4 separate regions of the Homo sapiens genome follow, and all the other regions are linked to region 1. Evidence: fine-mapped expression QTL. A gene starts in region 1. Each other region holds a variant in brackets. All regions are shown on one strand. Distances are from middle to middle. Region 1 holds the start of VDR (vitamin D receptor). Region 2 has its middle 25 kb from the start of TMEM106C. Region 3 overlaps VDR (vitamin D receptor). Region 4 overlaps VDR (vitamin D receptor).

Region 1 (5,836 bases):
CATCAAGAGAACACGGTGTGGGACAGCAACCTCCCTTTCCAGTTGTGTACCTGGCTAGGGAGAAGTAGGGTCCAGAGACAATTAGGGATTACAACAGAACACAGGAGAAGTGAATCTCATATGATGTTGCTTTTCTACTTTCACAAAATAACCTTCCTTCTAAGAATAAAACAGGCAAAAAAAAATCTATCTTTGTTCAATGTAAATACAAGATGGTTCATTAGCAGGTGCCAAACCATGCAATATAGAAAATGCATGCGCTACAAAGACCAGAGAATTGACAGTTCCTTTCCTGGAGATGTTGGAAAAGCCTGATGGAATAGGCAGGACCTGAAAGAGGAGAGGGTCTGGAGAGGTGGATGAGAGAGAACAGTTCAGGTATTGGGGGAATATGGGAAGAACATGGTTACAGACAAGGTGACGGGGCTGATGACGGCATGTGCTGGGGACCGTGATGACATCTATAATCTTGCCCATCTGCCAAACGCAGAACCTCTGAGTTCTTCAACTCTGTGAAAAGTGCATGCATGGAAATTTTTTTTTTGTTTTTTAGAGGCAGCATGAAACAGTGGGATGTGCAGAGAGAAGATCTGGGTCCAGTAGCTCTGACACTCCTCAGCTGTAGAAACCTTGACAACTCTGCACATCAGTTGTACAATGGAACGGTATTTTTTACTCTTCATGTCTGAAAAGGCTATGATAAAGATCAAGTAAGATATTCCAAAGAATTTTTAAATTATAAAGCAGTTTACACATGTGAATTACAAGTACCTCTCCTCCAACAAAGGCTGTGAAAAAAGACTAACTCTCAGTTACTACGGAATACTTAGTACGCATCTTCCACCATCTTTTGATAAGGTTTATTTGCAAGATGTCAGGCCAGTCAAGCACCACAAAAGTGACTTCTGAGTGTTCAACCTCTTTCAGAGGCTCATGGGACTTGCAGAGAATGTCCCAAGGTATTGGTGGTTGGAAATTTCCTCTTATGCTTTTCTTCCCACAAGAATCACCGCTAGCTTTCCCACGATGCTTTGGGCAAGGGGATCCTTCCTATTACTTTCATTACAGGTAGAGAATCCATCCATCAGACTGGCAGGACCTCTAAAGGGGCACTTCATCTGTTTCTCAGAATAAATGGTCCATTCCCAAGTTCAATCAAACGCTATGCCTCTCTTCTGTCTTTTGTTTAAGTCTTCCCAGAAAGTTGCCATGATACCTCCATAATGAACTGTTGCAGTGCTTAACAAACTTCACTGTTGGAAGGTTCTTCCTTCTATTTAATCTCAGTCTATTTCTTTTAACCCTATTATTGAGTTGTGAGGGGCTGGTTATGATGTAGTCCAGCATAGCTGTCTCAGAAATGGTTCAGAGACCATTGCACCAGCAGATTTGCTGGGCTCTAGCACTAGTCCTTCATTGATTAGCTGAGTCATGTTGGGCATATCACTTAAACTTTCTATGCCTCAATTTCCCACCCTTTCACCTTGTCCCTCTGAGCCATGGTTTCCTCCTCTGTAAGAGGCGAATAGCAATATCTTCCCTGGCTAAAGGAGGTCATCGACTGCTGGATGATTTTGTGAGCATTTCTATTCCAGAAGATTATGTTGTAATTACTATTTATTTATACATTCTCCCACTGCACAGTGAGTTCTAAGAAGAGGGAACCCCATCTTTTTCACCTGTCCTCTAGCAGATAGAGCGGTGCCTATCACACAGTCAAGGGAAGCAGAGAATAACTTTAAGCCAAAATTTCCTGTGGTGAGTTTTCCGCAGCCATCCACAATTCCAGGTCTCAGGAGGTAGTCTTTATCTTTTCCCCTCACGCCGATGCCACGGGGCGGGGGGGGAAGGCGGAACTCGGGACCAGGGACCAGGGAAGCTGAGACTCAGCTCCCTTGGGTGAGATTCGCGACAGGCCGGGAACGTGGTCAGCCGCGGTCGCTGCCAAGGTGATATCGGGTGGGAGCAATGACGCAACTCCGGTTTCCACTTCGGCCCCCCGGGATATTTTACCCTAATCTGTGGGATCAGGCTGAGCTTCCTGGCGTTCTGCAGCAGTAACAGGTTGGCGAGCGGAGCCCGGGATTTCCCATTCGTGCGGAGCTAGCCGCCGGTGCCAGTCGGCAGGCGCCCCCCAGCGTCCCGCGGACGACGAAGTCCTGGCCTGGTCAGCCCAGGTGGGGGTGACGCACCTGGCTCAGGCGTCCGCAGCAGGCTGGGTAGAACCACGGCAGGAAGGGTGGGGGGCTGCATCCCCGATTAACACAGGCTGAAGCGGGTATCCGCACCTATAATCATCGACAACTCTGTCCCACAGAGGGCAGAAGCGTGCCTTGCCCTATGGACGACGGTCGATGAAAATTTCACGAGTTAGAGTATCTAAGGCTACAGCGTGGCCTATAGGGTGGTTGATTCCAAGTCAAGATGGTTGCAGCGCCAACGGAGCTCCTGGCAAGAGAGGACTGGACCTGTGGGCGGGGCGGAGGGGCGGGGCGGGGCCGGGGCGGGGCCTGACCGAGAGGCGGGGCCAGGTGCTGGGCTGTCTCTGCTTGTCAAAAGGCGGCAGCGGAGCCGTGTGCGCCGGGAGCGCGGAACAGCTTGTCCACCCGCCGGCCGGACCAGGTGCGAACCCGGGAGCAGCGGGAAAGGGGGTCTCAGGATAGGGACTCGGGGTCGGGGCGTCTGGGATACCGGGGCCTGAGCGCCCGGCTGCGAGCATTAGAGTCTAAGTCTCAGCGGTAAACTTGGCTACTGAGGTCCGGGCTGTCGTGCCATGAGGCTGGGACACTAAGGGGCACTGAGGTTTGAGAAAGCTGAAGTTCGTGCCAGGCTGGCGAGGGGAGCAGCGACATCCTCGGCGCTTAGGAGAAATGCTCCGCTAACACAGTGCTTAGCACTTGGGCAACAAGAAGTATTTGTTTCCTTCTTCTGTCGGGGCGCCTTGGCATGGAGTGGAGGAATAAGAAAAGGAGCGATTGGCTGTCGATGGTGCTCAGAACTGCTGGAGTGGAGGGTGTGTAACCTTATTTATTGTCTTACAGGGCCCAGGTATGGTCACCTGTGATGGTGGAGTTGGGTCTTTTAAGTAATTTTTTTTTTTTTTTTTTTTTTTTTACTTTTCTTTGAACTACCAATGAGTTTAGACCTAATTGGCCCTATTTTTTTTCAGGACAGCCTGTCAATAGATGTTCAGAGGAACTCAGGGGCAAGCATTTAAATGAGGAAGGGGCTCAAGGAGTAGTTTCTGTTTGAAAAGTGAGGTGCCCTGGATCTGTGGGTGGTGGTGAGGAAGATTCAGAAGTATCTAGGAGGGAACAGCCTGTGGTCTCCAGGGCCAGTGTACAACTGCCCCTCCTTCTCTTCACCCAGGGACCAGAGTCTGAGACCTAGCCTGGGCTGGGGGAGCCTTAGGTCTCCAAGCCCAGACCCTTCTCACAGTTCCTCCTCCTTCTCCTCCTCCTCCTCCTCCTCCTCTTGTTCCTCCTCCTCCTCTATGCGTGCGGTGAGTGAGTCAGCCTCCTGTCTGGGCTCAGTTGCAGCCAAAGGGGCCAGAGCCCAGGCAAGCAGTTGGGCAGGCATTTTCTGAGCATTGCAGAAGCTCTCCTGGGCAGAGTTCAGCTCTGCTCCAGCTCCCTGCTGGAAGGTGGTCTTCCTCATGGGCAGGGGCTCAGATACCCAACACAGCAGTGCTTATGGAATGGCTATGAGATGATTCTAGCAGGAGGTGACCGTGAAGGGATAGTGGCTTTATGATAAATCTACATCTCATCTTTCTCCTGGGATAAGGAGGTGCATCCCAGCACTGCAGGCTTTTCCAGCCCTTCCTTCCATTTCTGCCTAGTGGTCTCATTAGCAGCCCATCTCTGCTAGTGAAGGGGGTGAGCAAAAGAAATTAGGAAAGTCTGGGGCCAGAGAAGTCATGGTGTTGGCAAAGAAGGCTTTAACTCAGGCTAGGGAGTGAGGGTGATTTGCTGAGGTAGAAATGGGTTATCTGAACATTGGAGCCTCAATTCTATGGACTAAGAGTGTTGTGTGTTGAGAGACCTGCCGTCCCTTCCCTGTCCAAGTGCTGGAGGGAACTGTGAGTCTTTCTGAAACAGTCTCAGGGCTGGCATGCAGCCAGACCAGAAGGTAGTAAGACTGCACATTTCTCCCTGGCTTTTGTTTTGGGTGCTAGAGATCGTTGAACAGAAGTAGCCCTCCCTGCAGAGTCCGTGGCCCCCACTCAGCAGCCTCTCTGGACCTATTTGAGAAGAGTCCTGGGAGGCCAATCCAGCTGTGGGGCTGACTCAAACTGCAAAAAGCTGGGGAATTCACAGTCTATGCTCTGGCTGGGTCCCATGGCTTTGGGTTTGGCTGGTCTTGATCAGCTGTGACTTGGACCCTTACCAAGCTAAAGGAGGGACTAGAAAATGGGGTAAGAAAGGAGGGGAAAAAATGAGAGTTAGAAAGCCTTCCCAACCCTTTACTCCTCTTCGGCAGAGGCCATCAGACTTTGTTTGTATAAACATTATGGAAGGTCGGGTGCTGTTTGGGGTGCCCTGATAGTTTGTGTTTATGGTTTCTCAGTATTCTTCCCCTATTTGACCTCAAAACTGATCTCTTTTGTAACTAAGCCCCAGAGGAAGCTCCGAGAGGACCTCCTGAACCCCTACACTCTACCCCCAGAACAGATAGCAGGTGTCCAAAGCCCAGGCTGTGAATGGAGAAAGGCCTGGGACCGAGTGGGCTACATCAGGTGGCTACTACATCAGGTGGTTATCTAAGACACGAAAGGGAGTTCCCATTGTTTCATTCCTTACCCCACATCCTAAGGAGGCACCGCTGTCCTGGCTGGAATAGGCATCTGGAACCTCTGCTAGAAACTCGCTGTTGCCTGTGCAGCAGTCAGGTCCTAGGGGCCAGAGAGCCAGAGACGGGAGGACCACCTAGATGACATTTGGTGTGTTGCTGAATAAAGAATTACAGGGCTCCAGCTTCCATTTGTCCCTGCTGCAATTCTGTTTTGGATGCAGGTAGAGGGAAATAAGGAATTGACCAGATTTGATTAAGAGCCTCTTGTGTGCCCAGCATGACTCCAGGCCCTCTGAGGGATAGCAGGAAGCAGAACCCACCAGACCAGGCCCCTGACTCCAAGACAGTTTGAGCCCCAGGGTGGGCAGCAGTTCTCAGGCTCTCCCTCCACTATTGTCCAGTTCTGAGAGGATCCAGCTGGGCTGAAGCCAGCCTGGCTGCCACTCTGGGCCACCAAGGCCTTGCTTGTCATTTTGCTTCCCTCTGATTTGTCCCTAACCTTTTCCTGTGTCAGTGCCCTCCTAGATATGCTAGAAAGAGTGCCTGTGTAATGTATCTTGCAAACTGGGATACTTCTGAGAGTGAAAGGGGATGCCATGCATGGTTATACCAGGACAATGGACATAAACCCAAACTTTCCAGGGAAAAATGGAATATTAATCACCCTAGTGATCATCACTCCAAACTCAGCAGAGGTCACAGCAGTGATGAGGGGATGATAAGGTTGGGGGAGGCTTAATGCTCAAGGGAAAACAGGGGTAGCTTAATTCTGAGGACAGCCCCCGACACCCTAGCCTGCTCCCTGGTGTTATCAGCCAATTCTCGTCTTTTCCCTGGGGCGGCACTGCTCCCGGCCACCCTGTCCTGGGACCCAGCCCACCACTCGTGTGACTTCCCTTCACCCTTGACTTGTGACTGGCCTCACCTTTGGTTTTCCTGCCCCACCCCAACCTCAGACAGGGACAGGAAGGTCTGCCAACTCCTCTTCAGCTTCCCCTGGGGAAATTGGGGTTCATAGTGGAGCCAAGACTGGGCCTCACGT
Region 2 (5,836 bases), 34 kb before region 1:
TAAAAGTATCCCTCTCCAGGATCCGTCTTTGCCAGTACATCGCGCTGACCCTTCCACAGCCGCCTCCTCACAAGAGCAGGGCCCCTTGCTGCCTCCACTTCCTCCCCCAGCCCCAGCCACTGCTTCACTGCAGCTGTTCATATGCAACTCGGCCTGAGGAGAGCTTCTGTGCCTCCCATGTCCTCTCCCAGCAGCCCGGCCTCAGCTGACTACCCTCCGGAGGCCCTCTCTTCTCCCTTCTGCTTCCCCATGCGGCGTTGTCCTTCTGGTTCCTTCTTGCCTTGTCTGTGATTCCTTCTTGCCTTGTCTGTGATTCCTTCTCAGGCCTCTTGGCAGGTTTCTCTTCAAAGTGACTGGAAAGCTAGTGCCACGTGGACTTGGTCCTGCCATCCCCTCTGCTGTGTTTCTGTGGTTTAGACACCATCTGTATGGTGGCAAACCCCATTCTTCCTCTGAGTTCTGACCCCCAGAAGCAGTTCCCTTGAACACTTCTGTTGGAGGCCTCGCGGACATTTCGACTTAATGCATCCAGATGACAACCCTTGATTCCCCCCTGTCACCCCCAATCTAGCCTGCCTCACCTTCATCTTTCTAGTTGCTGAAGACTGCAGTCCTTGGTGCTGCCTTACCTTTCACATCCAATATATCGTCCAGTCCACCAGATCCCACAAAAAATGCACTTGCTTTGCCACCATTCTTCTCAATGGCCACCATGGCCCTGGTTTTTCTAAGCCACCAAAGTGACTGGAAAGCTAGTGCCACGTGGACTTGGTCCTGCCGTACCCTCTGCTGTGTTTCTGTGGTTTAGACACCATCTGTATGGTGGCAAACCCCATTCTTCCTCTGAGTTCTGACCCCCAGAAGCAGTTCCCTTGGAGACTTCTGTTGGAGGCCTCGCGGACATTTCGACTTAATGCATCCATGAAATCCTCTCTTACCTGGACTCCACAGTGGCCTCATGACTGGCCTGCCTGCTGCCAACCCTCACCTCCTCCATTTCAATCTCCAGGAAGTATGAAGAATTGTCTTTTTGGGAGGATCACTTGAGGCCAGGACTTTGAGACCAGCCTGGGTAACATAGCTTGACCTCATCTATTAAAAAAAAAAAAATCAGCCAGGTGTGGTGGCATGCACCTGTCATCTCAGCTACTCGGGAGGCTGAGGTGGGTGGATCACTTAAGCCTGGGAGGTCCAGGCTGCAGTGAGCTGAGACTGCACCACTGCACTCCAGCCTGGGTGACAGAGTAAGACCCTGTCTCAAACAAACAAACAAACAACCAGAACTGTCTTTTAATAGCATTCGGTTCATGATATCTTTTCTCCAGAAGCTTTCAGTGTGCCCATGCGTGTGTGCTGTGTGTGTGCATATGTGCACATGCATGTGTGTGTGTGTTTGGAATGTTACCATAGCCTGTGAGGCCCTGAGTAATTCCACACTTTTCCCATTTTCCCAGCCTTATCTCATACCCCTTATCCTTGGCCAGGTGCTTGAGTCTTTCAGCTCCCACTAGTCAAACTTCTTTTCCTACCATAGGGCCTAGAATCCCATCCTCTCCCAGCATGTGCATGCGTGCGCACACACACACACACACACACACTGAGCTGGCCCCATTTTCATTCTTCACATCCACCTGAGTGTCATCTCTGCAGAGAAGTTTTCCTCACTGCCCTGTCCAAACCAGCCCTCCTCTTCTAATTTCTATTTCAGTCCTCTATTTGATTTCTTTTCATAATAGCATGGATTGTACTTTGTAATAATTTTATTTATTTGTTTCTTCACCTTCACCTTTGCTGTTCACTCCAGAATGTAAACTCTACAGGGCAGGGGCTATGTCTGATATTTCCATCATTGTAACCCCAATGCTTAGCAGACGGCTTGGCACTTGGTAGATGTGCAATAAAAATGTGTCGGATGAGTCAGTGAATAAAAGAATGAATGGTCCCAGTTGCTAAGGTCATTTAGGTTCTGGTGGGACTGGAAGACAGGTATGGAGGAAGGGAAGACCATGGTTGGTAGAAAGGCACTGCCTAGGTAGGCTTTCCAGACTTCACAAATAAAACTACAAGATGCCCAGTTAAATTTGAATTTCAGATAAACAATGGTTTCTTTTAGTATAGGTACATCTGACATTCAAATTCAATTGGGTATCCTATATTTTATCTGGACTAGGTGAGTGAGGAGGGTGTGGTGGGAGGGGGTCCAGGCCTGATGGAGTAATGGGACCCAGGGAGTGTGCAGAGCCCTGGGTTCAGGTGGAGCAGTTATGGAACCTAATCTTAGGCAAGAGCAGGGCACGTCATCACAGCGCACCCGTATGGGACACTCCCAGGGTGATCCTTGGCCCAAGAAAGAAACGAGGCGAAGAGGAAGTGCTGAGAGACACTGAGAGCTGGGTGGGGCTTGGGGGAGGTGGGTCCTGGGGTGGGGATGGGGACTGAGATCCTTGCCCTTTGAAGGTGACAGACAGAACCTGTCAGATGCTTCCTTCTCCATGACCTTCTGACTTGCCAACTTTAGCTCAACACATGCTTATTGGATACCATAGAATGAGCTGGGCACTGTGCCAGGTACTGAGGGCACAGAGATAAGTGAGACTTGTCCCTGCCCTCAAGTGCTCAGTGCTTGAGCACTGGACAACATGATGTGGCCCTGGAGGAAGCCAGACCAGTTCCACTGTCCCCCAGACCAAAGTCGGGTACCCTCCATTTCATCCTAAAACAACCCCACAAAGTAGTCATTATTACTGCCATTCCCTAAACAAGGAAATGGGTGCTCAGGTGATTCTGCAACTTAGCAAAGGTTACACAGGAAGTCAGGGATGGAGCTGGGATGCAGTCTCCATTTCTCGTTCCTTGAAGAACTCATCCCAGTTGGAGGGGCATGGCTGTTCAAGCCAGGTCAGAATCTAGTGGGGCTGGAGGAG[G/T]TAAGTAGAGAGAGGATTCTCCTGGGCTTGGCAGTGCTGCCCTGCAACAAGGGCAGAGCACAGACTTCAGGGGCCTCTTTATGCCAGGGCCCAGTGGGGCTGCCTGGACACACAATAGGGAAGGCCATTAGCACTCGTCCACTGGCGTCCTGGTCTTGCCTGCGTCTCCCTGTGACATGTGTGACATTGAACACATTGTCTACAGCCCTCACTCCTCTGGAGGCTCTAAACCCTGGAGAACATAAGCAGTGTGAGAGAAGGAGCTGGTGAAATGCTAACCCCAGCAGGTACAGTGGCTTGCACTTGTAATCCCAGCATTTTGAGAGGCCGAGGCAGGAGAATCATTTAATCCCAGGAGTTTGAGACCAGCCTGGGCAATGGAAGGAGACCCTGTCTCAACAAAACATAAAAAAAAAAATAGCCAGGCATGTTGGGGAGTGCTGCCTGTAGTCCCAGTTATTTGGAAGGGTAAGGCAGGAGGATTTCTTGAGCCCAGCTGGTTGAGACTGCAGTGAGTCATAATTGTGCCACTCCACTCCTGCCTGGGTGACAGAGCAAGAATCTGTCTCTAAATAAATAAATAAATAAATAAGAAATCCTAACCACATCCTGTTCCCCCAACCCTCAAGAAGCCATTCCTTCTAACTCTGGGGATGCAGCTGGGCTCATGTTCCTTTGCTTGGAAATCTCTTAAACTAGGTTTCGCTTTTAGAGCTCATCCTTGCCCTCCTTCTCCCTCCAGGAAGGCCAGGACCTGGCTCCATTTTTACAGGTGGGCTATGTTGGGCCTCAGAGATCTCTGGGGATGGGGAGGCTATATAGCTCATCTTGCTCCCCCTCCCCACGGTCTTTCATGCCCAAGAAGTAGAAACTCCTACCTAACTTTGTCCCTCCCAGTGGCATGTATGGCAAATCACTGTAGCCCAGGTCTCTGAGAATCAAGATGACCTTGGAACTTGCTGTTCAATGGATTCTTTTTCTGTCTTTCCAGTTCCCCATGGCTCTATCTCTTTATTTTCCTTTGCATCATCTCTATGTCATTTCACAATTAATTAATTAATTTTCAAGCAGATGCAGTCTGGGTATAGGGAATCCCCTCCTTGGGGCCCTCATAAGACTGACATGTGGGATTTCCTAGCTCTAGATCCAACACCTAACGAGTGAGTCTAAACATCTACTTTGTGCCTTTTCCCAATAACATTTGATCTAATTCTTAGGGCTGTCCCTGCATGTGCACACACACAGTCACACATACACATACTTGTACATACATATGCTCTCACCCATACTTGCACACACATTCACATGTACACACTAGCACAAGGACTGCTGTCTGTAACACAAGGTGTTGGTGTGTTAGGAAAGGGGCCTCTGTCACTGACAGGGAAAATTCTTCCTCAAGCACTTTGTTGAACGAACACCATGATGGGCCACTTGGGTTGTGGAAGGCAGTCCTTGCATGGAGTGGGCTTTGACTGAGACAGACATAACCAACATAGGAATTTGTGGGTGAGTGTTGGTTAGTTTAGAAGGAGATTGGACGAGGAAGGAGCCACAACATGGTAGGAGGCTTGAGTCCAAGTAGAAGACAATTCCCCATGGTGGGAATATGGGGAAAGGAAAGAACTGAAAGACTTTTAAGGACAAAGATTCTAATGATCAACATTACGACTGATTCTGTTATGCAGCAAAGAACTGCCCCTCAGTTACTTTCAGCTCTACAGTAGTCCACATACAGTAGACACCGCCTGGCCTTTGTGGTAACATCTTAGAGAAATTAAGAAATATGGGCTGAATTACATGTTTGAACCAATGGAGGCGGAGGTGGAAATGTCCACAAGAGGCAAGACATTAAAAAAAGAGATAAAATTCCATAGAAGCAGGAACTTAGAGCCAGAAGTGACTGAAAGAAACATAAGCCCAACTCCATTCCCACCTCAAACATTCCTAGACATACTAGGATTAGATACCTGGATTTCCCACCATTTGTGGGATGAATGTCTGAGTACATACCATTTCAACAAAGCTGAGTTACATGTAAATACACATATTAAATCACATGTGTGTTCACACTCACATGAGCATTACTTTTCTCTTCATAGAGCATGAATGAAGCAGTGATTTGGCAAGTATCAGGTTAATTTTACAAATGAAAACAGCCAAACCAGAATATTTAGGTTCAAAAATCACCACTGGCCTGAATGATCTGGTTTGGCCACGTATATTTAGCAAGTTAACTAGAAAAGTGCCAAAGTCCTGCACTTGTGCTTGCCAGGTGCACTTTTAATAGGGTGGCCTAAATCCTTGCAGATATACAGATACCTCTCCACACATTATTATTAAGTAGATCTCTCCACATATTATTACATCTAATGTATATTTGTAAGCAACTCCATGATTGTCCTAGATTATCTAGGACTGATCTTTCATACTAGGCTGGTTTTCTGCAGCTACCTGTCATGTGACTGACCCTAAAAAGGAGGTCATGCTAGAAAAGGCCATTGTTGCTTCTCTTCTTGTTGTTGTTTCATTCTCTATTAATGCGTGCTCAGAAAATGCAATGAAATTTACTATTAGCCTAAATTGTACGTAACTGGTCTGCCAGTTACAGAAAAAAAAAAAAAGCAACACAATCCCAAATATAAAGCACCAAATATGAAAATAAAGACGTAAAGAAATAGGAAGAGGACAGTTACAATGGAAGAGTTTTGAGTCAAAAGAGAGATTTTGGGTTTTACCTTTGTTCTGCTAGGGACTTGCTTTGCAAATGTGTCAGTGTCATTATTTGTCCTACGACAGGGTGGGCCTAAGAGCTTTTGAGAATTGCCTTCCAGCTCTAAAATGCTAAGATGCCCTAAGAGTGTATGACTCAGGGAGATCATCCGGTGCTTATGAGGAGTGGTCTGATGTGG
Region 3 (5,836 bases), 65 kb after region 1:
GAGAAAACACTTGTAAGTTGCTAAACGAGTCAATCCCCTCATTCAGGAAAACTGACAGAGGAGGGCGTGACTCACCCAAGCATATATAACTAGCTAGAAGTGGGCCAGGACAGGCCCGGCGCGGTGGCTCACGCCTGTAATCCCAGCAGTTTGGGAGGTCGAGGTAGGTGGATCACCTGAGGTCGGGAGTTCGAGACCAACCTGACCAACATGGAGAAACCCTGTCTCTATTAAAAATACAAAAAAAAAAAAAAAAAAAATAGCCGGGCATGGTGGCGCAAGCCTGTAATCCCAGCTACTCAGGAGGCTGAGGCAGAAGAATTGAACCCAGGAGGTGGAGGTTGCAGTGAGCTGAGATCGTGCCGTTACTCTCCAACCTGGACAACAAGAGCGAAACTCCGTCTTAGAAGTGGACCAGGACAGGACCAGATTTTGGAGTCATGGTCCGGTGTCCTTTTCACTACACCATGTTTGAGCTCAGACCCCCACTCTCATTCCCCAGGTGGCTGACCCAGTCCCTGGGGGAAGCCCTGGATTTCAGAAAGAGCAAGTCTGGATCTGGGACCCTTTCCTTCCTTCCCTGGCTTGTAACTCCACCAACCCATCAGAAGGAGAAGGAAGGAGACTCACCTCTGCCTCAATGTGAATCAGACCCTACCCCACCACGATGTGGCCCTGGCCTGCTGGGCTCTCCACCTCAGCCTTGGATAATGCTGTTGCCTCATCTATAACATGCATTTGTCTTTGTAATGTCACCACCTTCCCAGCTCTCCCTCTGGCCCTGCCTTCTTCGGGGAACTCCTGGAAATATCAGTTACTCAGCCCTGGGCCCCACCACCTAGGCCACTCCTCCAAAGGAAGTCTAGGAGCTGGGAGGAAAAGAAAAGAGGGGAAAATGAGTTTTTATGGGGCTGAACGGGGAGAAAAGGTCATCATCGATTCTACTTTAGAATGAGAGTGTGAAATAGACATTTGTAAATGTAAAACTTTTAAGGTATATCATTATAACTGAAGGAGAAGGTGCCCCAAAATGCAAGATTTTCCACAAGATTCCCAGAGACAGGAAAATCCTCTGGCTGGCTAACTGGAAGCATGTAGGAGAATCCAAGCGAGGTCAACAGAGAAGGCAGGAATGTGTGGCAGATTTAGTGAAAGCTAGAGATATGGCAGCGAAAGGATGTAAACAGTGCCTGCTGAATGATTTCCAAAGAGAAAAAAAGTTTGCCAGAAGTTTGTCAAGTCAACCAATGTAGAAAGCTTTGCTTATGGTAATAAAAATGGCTCATACTTATATAGCACTTACTTTGTTGCAAGTACTGCTGTAAATAAATGCTTTATGCAAACCAATTTGCCTTATCCTTATAAGGACCTTATGGGAGATGAATCATTATTACCCCCATTTGACAGAAAGGATAGCTTGAGCAATGCCACACTAGCAAGGGATGGGATTTGAACCTTCAGCAGCTAGGTTCAGAAGCCACAAATTAACTGCTACATTGTCCTGCTTCCTATTGAGTTGGGGGACCTGACAGACGACTGATGGTCTTGCTAGCTCTCTCCTAGAGAGGAGATAAAAGAGGTTCCCATTCCTAAAGCAGGCCCTGAGCCAGGAAAATTAGAGGTGCTGGACCAAACTGTGCTCTACTCCCAGGAAGTGTGCAGTCAATATATGACACCTACGTGAGACCCTCAAAAATGAAAACCAAACAGCTACTGGCAAAACTGTGTCTGCCATTAGAGATGGCGGCTGTGCCAGTGACCTGGAGGATTACAAATGACTGCTGTGCAGAAACAGGACTCCTAAGGGGCCCAACTTATGCCGATGCACTCCATTCTGCTTCCCAAGGAAGTGGGGTTTATGATGAAGGGTAGCATTGCTAGGCACAGTAAACAAGAACACAGCATTGTGATCTGAAAATAAGGAAATCATGCCAGCTAATGTATTGATTGAGGATAAGTTGGCCTGGGGATGTGATTCACTCTAATTTTTCAGAAACATCTGAAAATATTTCAAACCAAAGGCTAAAATGTGTTTCAGTGGGATGAGATGGACTTAGGGGAATTGGGGTTAGAACTTGAGGGTTATTTTGTGAAACATGAAGGGACTTAGAGAAAGGAAATCAACAGCTGCATAAATGGGCATGTCTCTGGCTGGAGAAATGTGGAGAATGGAGTTCTGATACACTGTTAGAAGGATCTTATGTAGCATTTTTATAGCTGACCTAGAAGAACACAAAATTTCCAAGGCTGTGTTATAATGCGCTTTTCCAGGTAAACCAAGAGGAATATACCCCAGGAAGGTTGCATAATTAGGATCAAGTGTTTTCAAGTTTTCATATTCCAAGCTTTGGTTCTATGCCTACACTGTTCAATCCAGTAGCCACTAGCTACATGTGAGTATTTAAATGAAATAAAGGTAAACATCTAGCTTGTCAACCGCACAAGCCACAGTTCCAGTATTTGATAACCTCAGGGCTACCGTAAGAGACAGTGCAAATACACAACATTTTCTTCCTTTTTTCTTTCTTCTTTCTTTCTTTTTTCTTTCTTTTTTCTTCTTTTTTTTTTTTGAGACAGAGTCTTGCTCTGTCACCCAGGCTGGAGTGCAGTGGCACAATCTCGGCTCACTGCAACCTCTGCCTCCCAGTTTCAAACCATTCTCCTGCCTCAGCCTCATGAGTAGCTGGGATTACAGGCACCTGACACCATGCCTGGCTAAGTTTTGTATTTTTAGTAGAGACAGGGTTTCACCATGTTGTCCAGGCTGGTCTTGAACTCCTGACCTCAAGTTATCTGCCCGCCTCAGCCTCCCAAAGTG[C/A]TGGGATTACAAGCGTGACATTTTCATCATCGCAGAATAGTCTATGGGGCAGCACTGGTCTACACAATGCATTCTTATCTGGTACTAATTGTGAATGACTCCATGAGGATGCTGGCGTCATGTGCTTCTGTTGATCTGTAGGGCAGAATGGCCACTAACTTGACATCATATGGAAGTGCTATAGGGAACATCCTCCCCTTACAATGGGCTATGCCACACCTGGGGTAGTTCGAATGAGTCTGCTTCTTAAAAGAGACATAAAGCAAAAACACTGCACAGACCATGGGGTTGATAGGCTCAAAGCATCATGTGGTATAAATAGCTCACTGGTGTGCTAGGAGTATTGATTCCTTTAGCCCTGGAGCAAGCAAACAGGGCCTGCCAGGAGTGACCACAGCCCTTCAATTTCCCCAGCTTCTACCAGGCTCCTTGCAGGCTGCCTGTGCAGTGCAGGTCGGTCTGCCTGCCCCATGGTCCCTGCAGATGACAAGAAGGATGGATGCTGTCTGACACCTCCAGCATGGCCAAGGAGATGGCTCATCATGCTGACATCCTATAGGCAACTAGTCCTCATTGTGGGCAGGGAGCCCGTGAGGCTGATGGGGAGTCTGTGCTCCTCAAGACCCAGAAGCACAGCAGGGTGTGGAGCCTGTGGCTGGCAGGGGGAATCTGAGAGCTCGCTGCTCCAGACAGCTGCTCCGAATCTCTGTATGCACGCATGTGATATATGATATACGGGATGGTGTTGCAAGTTGGGTTCCAGGGACGTAGACTCTGAAATGCAGGTTGAAGTGCAGGGAGCTTGTTAGGGAGCAGTCTCAGGATTATCAGCCCTGGTGGAAGGGAAAGAAGTAGAATTAGCAGTGGGAGAAGTTGGGCTGCAAAGCAGTCTCAGTGAAGGTCTCAATCAACCCGTGTGGGGATCTCTGAAGCTGGGATGGCCCTTTGGATTGCCCCAAGATGAAGTGAGGGAGACACTTCTATATTCCTGCATCAGGTAGTCATTGGACGCAGGCTGTTCCCTGAAGAGCATGTGATTTCATTGACATGACCTCAGCTAGGCGGCTCTTTTCAGCCTGTGGCCCATAGGACATGTCCATAAGGGGTGTTTTCTTCACATTCTATACAACCTGGTGAGCACTTCTGGAGTGAGCTGCTCTGGCTTGGGGAGACGCTGGAAGAGTTCCAGGCCCTCTCCTGTGGCTCTATCCAAGGAGAGTGCTGACTCCAAAGGAGGGGGTTCCCAGCCTCCCCTCAGTTATGGATTAGCTGGGTTATTTTTCCTAAATCATCTTGAGTTTCACCACGAGGTGGTGCTACTGCCCTACAGGGATAGCTTTGAGCCACTTGCCTGGCCCCCCGCCCCCAAAGCCCCAATCACATCCCCCTTCCACCCTTTCTCTATCTCCATGATATGAGTGAGATTCAGCAAGGCTCTGAGTCTCTGCTACTGAGGGCATCTGGTGGTGCTTACCTCTCCTCATGCCAGCGACATGGGGTTAGGGATCTGCTCTCTGGCTTCTCCTCCCAGGCAACAGGGAGTATCTGACCCTCTCACACCTCACCCAAGGGCCTCCCAGGGTCTTGTGCCCCGGGCCTCTGAGCATAGTCCGTGCTGACAGTGAGCGAGGCTGCAGGTTCCCTCTGAGGTCCAGCCAAGTTATGTAGTCCTTCCAGTGTTTCTAACCAGCCACACCACCGAGCTCAGTGCTGGGGATATGGCGATGAACAAGACAGTCGCCACCCCCAAGAAAAGCACTGTGCAGTGGGAGAAGACAGCCCTACAGACAGATGAGTACTAGGCATGCCAAGTGGAAGCTGCAAAGTGTTAACAAGTTAAAAGTAACAGTTAACAAGTAAACTGCTGTCTCCCAGGCCTGGCTCTGCCATTTGCTATTTGTATGACCCTGGGCAAGTTACTTAATGTTTTTGAGCCTCAGTTTCTTCACAGAATGGTAACAATAATAGTACCTACCTCATAGATTTGCTGTTGTTGTGATATAATCTGTGTAAAGCATTTATAACAGTACCTGGCACGTAGTTATCAATCATGTGTTGGCCAACATCACTATTGGGTTGCTGAGATGGCCAAATAAGTTTTTATCAAGGAGGTGACATTGCTCCCACATTCCGACCTCCGATCCCTGATGGGCCCTCTAGATTCACTCCAGGCTGATTTTTTGGGGCGCCTCTTCCGGATCTCAGCTTCTTGGTGCTAGGGACTCCTGCTCCATGATATCTACCAGAACTGAGAGAAGGTGTCATTGTACCACCTGGCCACCAGGGGGCAGGTGTGCCACTTAATAAACCAAATTGGCCCCAGCCGAAAGCTGCCTGGGGAGAAAAGTGTGGGAAAGAGGTGGGAAGATAGGAATATAAATCTGAAATGCATGGAACTCTAGTGACTACTGTCCCCAACTTCTTTCAGTCATGTTCTTTATTTGTCAATGTCAATCCTTCAACAATCACCAACACCTGGACTTCACTACATGCGTATTTACTGACCTATAATTAATGTCAGTATTCTCTGGCAAGGGGTGGCTTATGCCCAGAGAAAAGGGAATCAAGACAAGTTTCAAGAATCGGGTTTGATCGATTCATTTATCCCCATGTTTGTTGGAACCCTGCTTCTCTGATGAGGTATAAACCCCACCATGATCTCTTCAGTGTCATTTGTCTTTGTTCCAGACATTGAAACTTAACCGACCACCGTGTCTGGGTACGTGCAGTTCTCTGAACGTGCAGCTCTGTGGCTTGCCTCTAAACCAGAGTTTCTCAAGCATTTGGGTCCTGGCATCCTTTTACTCTCTTAAAAAGAAGGACCCCAAAGAACTTTTGTGTGTGTGGGTTAGATTCATCAATATGTACCATTAGAAATTAAAACAGACATTTTTAAAGTGTATTCTTTAAATGTGGCAATAATGAATCTATTAAAAGTTAGAACAAATAACACATTTTTTTCTTTAAAATAACCAGTTTCCAAAGTAAAACTAATTTAATGACAAGACAGTATTGTTT
Region 4 (5,836 bases), 45 kb after region 1:
AATTCTCTCCTGTGGAGTCCTGTGTCCCCATCCTGCTGTATGCCCAAGGTAGCTTCTCGCCACACCACCCTCCTCATCCCAGTGCAGGGAGCAGTACTCAGTTCTAGATGGGCTGGTGGAGCGGGGATCCAGTTAAAATAGAAACGTCCTGATGCTTTTTACTTTCCTGAAGGGAAGACTGTCCAGGAAGAGACATTCCCAGCCTCAGGTTAGTCCAGCTTCAGGAGGCCTCACCAGTGTGAAGTCCCCCGGCCTCAGAACCCTGGGAGAGCTGCACATTTCTTATCTGGGCTGGGTTTTGTCCCCAAGGCATAGCATCCCAGAGACAATTGAGTGTCTCAATATTTGTAAAACCACAGGAAGAAAGCTAAAAGCCCAGGCTCCTGCTGTCCGAGCAAGGAGGTGGGCCTTCCATAGAAGAGGCACAGGAAGGGAAAGGATGAGGACAGAAACCCTGTGTATTGACCAACTACTGTGTGTCAGATAGCACATCAAGCACATGCATTTTCTTCTGAAATTCTCACAACACTCCCTAAATACGTAAATACTTTTATTTTTTCAATAGCTGAGGAAGCTCAGAGGAATTAAAATATCATGGCTCTCAGCTAATAAGATGATGGTATCAGCATTCATTCTAATCTAGGTCTTTCTGCTTCCAAAGGGCAGGCTTGTGGGCCACACCCGAGGCAGCCTCTCGTGGCCCCAGTGGGTCGGAGCTCACTCCATTGTGCATTTCCAGGCACTTTCACATGCTCTAAGAGATGGATTGAAGAGAGCTTGGTCCCACCAAAGACTCATTTTCTCTCTTTTCCATTCTTAGTTGACTTTATACCCTGGGAACCCAAGAAATTTTATAACTGAGTTCTTGCTTTTTGCTTATACTATTACCTGTCCTGCACAGAACCACACATTGTGGTAACTTGTTTGATGTTTTTACAGATGTATGTCTTTTCTCCCTGGTGTTAGTAAAGTACCTGGCACATAGTAGGTGCTCAATAAATGTGTGGAATCAATGAATATTAGCTCCTCATTATGCTTCTTTCTCTCTGTATATCTTCCACAGGTCTATAGATCAGTAAGATTCTCCCAAACCTGATCATGTCTGTGCCGTTCATTTGGAAACATTTTATGTCCTCTTCCTGTGGTTGTTCTTAGCCCATCCTTGGCATCTTGAAATGTTTTCAAATTGTTTATGTTGCAGATCTTGGCTTCGTTAAGGAGAGAACATGTCTTGCATGGGAATAACTTGCGCAAAATTATTTCACACTCAGCAAGGAGCTTAAAATGAAGTCAAAAAAAGCTTCTGAGCAGCCATGTAGGTTTTACAAAGTCCACATGCCAAAACTCATGCACTTTAGACGCCTGATCACCAGACAGCCCAACACTCTTTCAGAACCTGTTTACTCTTATTCTAGGTCAATGGCTTCATATATCATATAGTGTCTTCCTATATGATAGTAATGACATCTTAGGTTCAATCCATTGAAAAAATGATAAGAAATTTCCCATGAAATTAACAAGATCTTTAAACAAATTATTTCGTAAATCACAGTGCATTTGCATATGTGAAAGACTTTAGACTTATTCAGTCCTCAAGCAATGTTGCCTTGCAGAAGGCTCATGGATTGGGCCTGTGTGAAACTGGTAGATCTCAGCATTTCTTCCTCTGTTACCTCCATAGAAGATGGAGGTTGCTATTTGATGCAAGTGACTGGGAGGAATCATGTTATAGGGTTAAACTTGAACTTTCTTTGTCTCTTTAAAGTGGGTAATTTACAAGCTTTGTGACTTAATTTTATTTTCACACTCTTCAGATGGATTGGAACACAATGCCTGTCAAAACTCCATGGCTGAAAGCCAAAGTCCGCTTATAACCAGATGTAATCAGACACAGTAGAGGCTAGTGGTTATGACCTTCCACTCCAGAACCAGACTGCCCAGGTCTAAATGCTGGTTTCACCACTGTTAGCTGTGTGACTTTGAGAAAGGTAGAAAGCCTCTCTGGGCCTCAGCTCCCTCATCTGCTAAATGGGAATAACAACAGCACCTGCCTTAAAGGGTTGTCATGAGGGCTAAATATATGAGTTAATATACAAAAGGCTCTCAGAATAGTGCCTTATAGATAGAAAAACTCTTTATGTGCCATCCAGCATTACGAATATTTTCTTTTTATTACATCAAACTTGATCACCAGAACTTCTAGCTCCCAAGAGATCAGAAGTAAGTCTTAAGGGGGAGAAAGGCACACATCCAGAGGCAGACACCAATAAGAAGACAACGCATAGTTTAACAGGGAGGTGGACACTGGAAGCAAGAAAAGCAGCCCAAGAACTCCAAAGCCCAGCACGCCAAGCCATGCAATGCGGGGCAGACAGCCTCTGACAACTCTGAGGCTGTAACCTTGTCCTGCAATGTTCAGTAATTATTCAGAATGATACCTCTGAATCATCAGGGAAAGGTTATATG[A/T]CGTTAAAAGTGTTCCGTTACAAGGTTTTCTGTCTTGAAAATCTTTCCATAACAATTGTTTCAATAAAAGAGGTCAGCTTTCTCAGCTCTCTGGTGTGCCAGGTGCCATTCACTACATTGCAGGAGACAAGCAGCACTAGAGTACTCACTAGCCTTTCCTGAACCAGGAAAATGATTTGCACACAGTTGGTGTAATCTGTGTGGATGCATTTGATATTTGGTGTCAGACTATTGAGCAGACACCACGGCCAGGTAGCCCCTCCGGTCTAGCCTTTATGGGGGAAATATAAGAATTGTAAGACAAAGGCCGGGCATGGTAGCTCACGCCTGTAATCCCAGCACTTTGGGAGGCCAAGGCGGGCAGATCACCTGAGGTCAGGAGTTTGAGACCAGCCTGGCCAACATGGTGAAACCCCATCTCTACTAAAAATACAAAAAAATTGGCCAGGCATGGTGGCATGTGCCTATAAGCCCAGGTACTCTGTAGCCTGAGGCAGGAGAATCGCTTAGAACCCGGGAGGTGGAGGTTGCAGTGAGCCGAGGTGGTGCCACTGCACTCCAGCCTGGATAATAGAGCGAGAGTCTGTGAAAGAAAGAAAGAAAGAAAGAAAGAAAGAAAGAAAGAAAGAAAGAAAGAAAGAAAGAAAAAGAAAGAAGGAAGGAAGGAAGGAAGGAAGGAAGGAAGGAAGGAAGGAAGGAAGGAAAGAAGGAAGGAAGGAAGGAAGGAAGGGAAAGGAAGGGAGAGAAAAGAAAGAATTGTAAGACATGGACCCTGCCCTTAAGTAACTTGTAATCTAGAGAAAGAGACCTTGAACTTCTTGGGCTCCGTCTATAGGTAATGAATTGAAAACTGTGCTAACCATGAGTCTTACAGAGCAGAAGATAATTGGGTGTCAATGTGTGTGGGAAAGACTAAATATGTAGCAGGCATAGGAAATGAGGCTCAGCAGAAAAAAACAAGGCTTGATGCAGATCAGGGCAATCAAGAAATGCTTCATGGAAAAAGATGGCTATGATGTAGGCACTGAAGAACTGGTAGAACTCATACAGGTTTGGGGGAGAGAAAACCCAGCTGGACGGGCACCTAGCACAACTGGAAATGCAGGGGCGAGCATGAGCAGGTCATGTTCCCAGGCCAGCAGCAATGCCAGCATGCCCAGAACAGAGGCTGTGTCCAGAAGCACTAAGACATGAAGTCTGAAAGTTAGGAAGAGGCCAACTTTAGTTTGGACGTGGTCATCAGTAGGGGCCGAGAAAAGTATCTGGGCAGGAGAATGGCATCACAGAATCACTGGAAAGTTAGCAAAGTCCAGTCAGGCTGAGCTACGTGCCTGTAGACACCATGGTGTGGCTGGCAGAAACAGGTCTCCCTAACTCTGGTCCCCAGGTGAGCAGGAAAGACAAGACACCTAATCTTGGGCTCCCCAAGCGAGGGCTTACCCCCATTGCCTTCCCTGGATGCTCCCTGCCCCTTCCTCTCCCACCCTGCCTGACCTGGTAGGGTCTGTGCAGACACCCACTGTGGGAGGAGAGTTGGCAGCTGTTTGGGCAGGTGAGTCAGTCACCTGGGTGTGGTCTACTCCCAGGCTCCCTGTGGAGGGAAGCACCATCTCTTGCAGTAGCGCTCGCTTTCCTGCCATGCCTGTGGCATTGGCTGTCCACTCCCTCCCAGCATAGGCTCTTCCTCACCCCACAGCAACTTCTCTCGTCCTCCCCCTACCTGAGGGCCTGGGCCAATGGACCTTTCTCAAAGCCTGGAACTCACCCACCCTGGGCTTCTGGTTCCTTTCTCTGCTCTTGTGAAACTCCCCAGTTCTGTGGGCAGATGCCCTGGCAGCAGCAGCACCAAGCAAGTAGCTACAGGCCAAAGGCCCTGGTGCCCACTCCTGCCGTCAGCACTCAGCAAGCCACAGCCAGGAGGTCTGTTTGCCCAGCCGCCGTGCCAGGCACCTTTGCTCCCAGCATCCCCTCCACCCCCACAGCTGCCCCAGCACAGGGAGGCAGGCAGAAGCCTGCAGGTGGTGGTGGGGCTCTCTATGGCCCCACACCCTGATTAGTGGCTGGAGAGAACTTCTAAGATTAGAGCTGCAAGGCCTCACCCTTTGGGGCCTTCAAGAGGACTTGAAAACTTCCATGGACAGAAATGTCAAGGCTGTACATGCTGGAGGAGGGGTGGTTTTGCAGAGAACCAAAGAGGTCTAGTCTTTCTATATTCCACAGTCCCATGTCTGGAAACCTGGATGTGGAGACAGCCACATAGAGGAGTCCTCTCCACATCTCACTTCCAGCGCTATGAGAGCTCTGGCATCCTCTCTTCACCCTGATATCTTCTTCAGGATCATGGAACATCAGGGTAGGGAAGAGAAGAGAACTAACATTTAGTGAGCATCTGCTCTGGGCCAGGCATGCATCCAGTTCTCAAATCAGTTGATCCTTTGAGGCAGGTATTATTACTTCCCCCACCTGCATGTCAACACACACAGACACACACACACACACTTTATGGAGGAAGGTACAAGAAAGGAACCTTGGAAGAACTTACATGGTCCAAATCTCTCATTTTACAAACAAAAGAACAAAAGCCCAGAGAGTTTGCCCAAGGTCCCACAACTTGTTCTTGAGAACCCCGACTCCCTAAAGCCCAGATCATCCCCCCTCTCAAATCCTCTTTTTCTTCTTCTTGCATGTGCCTTCCTTTTCACCATAGCAAACCCAATTTTTCTTCACACAGTGGAGTGGGAGTCTCCGTGGCAGGAGGACCCCCGAGGGAGCCCCGAGTGTTAAAGCCCCTCCTATCTTGGACCTTTACCCCCAACCGCAGGAGGAAGGTTTCCTGGAGGAGCTGCTGGCCAGCCCTCCTGACTCCCCTTCCCACCCCACAGTCATTCTGACAGATGAGGAAGTGCAGAGGAAGCGGGAGATGATCCTGAAGCGGAAGGAGGAGGAGGCCTTGAAGGACAGTCTGCGGCCCAAGCTGTCTGAGGAGCAGCAGCGCATCATTGCCATACTGCTGGACGCCCACCATAAGACCTACGACCCCACCTACTCCGACTTCTGCCAGTTCCGGGTATGTCTGCCTGCTGGGAGGATGAGCCGGTCCAGAGGAGAAGCACTAGTGGAGCCAGGGCCCAGGGAGTAGGGACAGAGGGCAGGGGACATCCTGAACAGAACTGGGGTAGGGACGGAGGCTGCTCTGCCCCTGGCACTGGGAGGCTTCGCCTTCCTGTAGACCTTCCTCAAAGCCATTCCTATCAGAGATCAGGGCCAAGGTAGGAAGGCAACCCCAAAATGTGGGTCTGAGACCCCATCTTTCCCTTCCAGCCTCCAGTTCGTGTGAATGATGGTGGAGGGAGCCATCCTTCCAGGCCCA

Evidence for each region.
Region 2: its variant is fine-mapped to the expression of VDR in whole blood (TOPMed, PIP above 0.99).
Region 3: its variant is fine-mapped to the expression of VDR in blood mononuclear cells (TOPMed, PIP above 0.99).
Region 4: its variant is fine-mapped to the expression of VDR in adrenal gland (GTEx, PIP above 0.99).

What each region holds. Positions count from the first base shown.
Region 1 is chr12:47,901,741-47,907,576 of GRCh38, reverse strand. VDR (vitamin D receptor) reads left to right here and starts at 2,583. Exons shown (of 10, transcript NM_000376.3): 1 at 2,583-2,622. RefSeq lists a silencer at 2,461-2,590 and an enhancer at 3,974-4,173.
Region 2 is chr12:47,935,947-47,941,782 of GRCh38, reverse strand. No RefSeq gene overlaps it. Among named protein-coding and RNA genes, the nearest start is that of TMEM106C, 25 kb to the left of the region's middle. The variant G/T (reference allele first, on the strand shown) is at 2,925.
Region 3 is chr12:47,837,048-47,842,883 of GRCh38, reverse strand. VDR (vitamin D receptor) reads left to right here. Exons shown (of 10, transcript NM_000376.3): 10 at 1-1,347. LINC02354 (long intergenic non-protein coding RNA 2354) reads right to left here. Exons shown (of 3, transcript XR_007063292.1): 3 at 2,776-5,066. Among named protein-coding and RNA genes, the nearest start is that of LINC02354, 11 kb to the right of the region's middle. The variant C/A (reference allele first, on the strand shown) is at 2,819.
Region 4 is chr12:47,857,201-47,863,036 of GRCh38, reverse strand. VDR (vitamin D receptor) reads left to right here. Exons shown (of 10, transcript NM_000376.3): 5 at 5,349-5,533; 6 at 5,788-5,836. Among named protein-coding and RNA genes, the nearest start is that of LINC02354, 31 kb to the right of the region's middle. The variant A/T (reference allele first, on the strand shown) is at 2,467.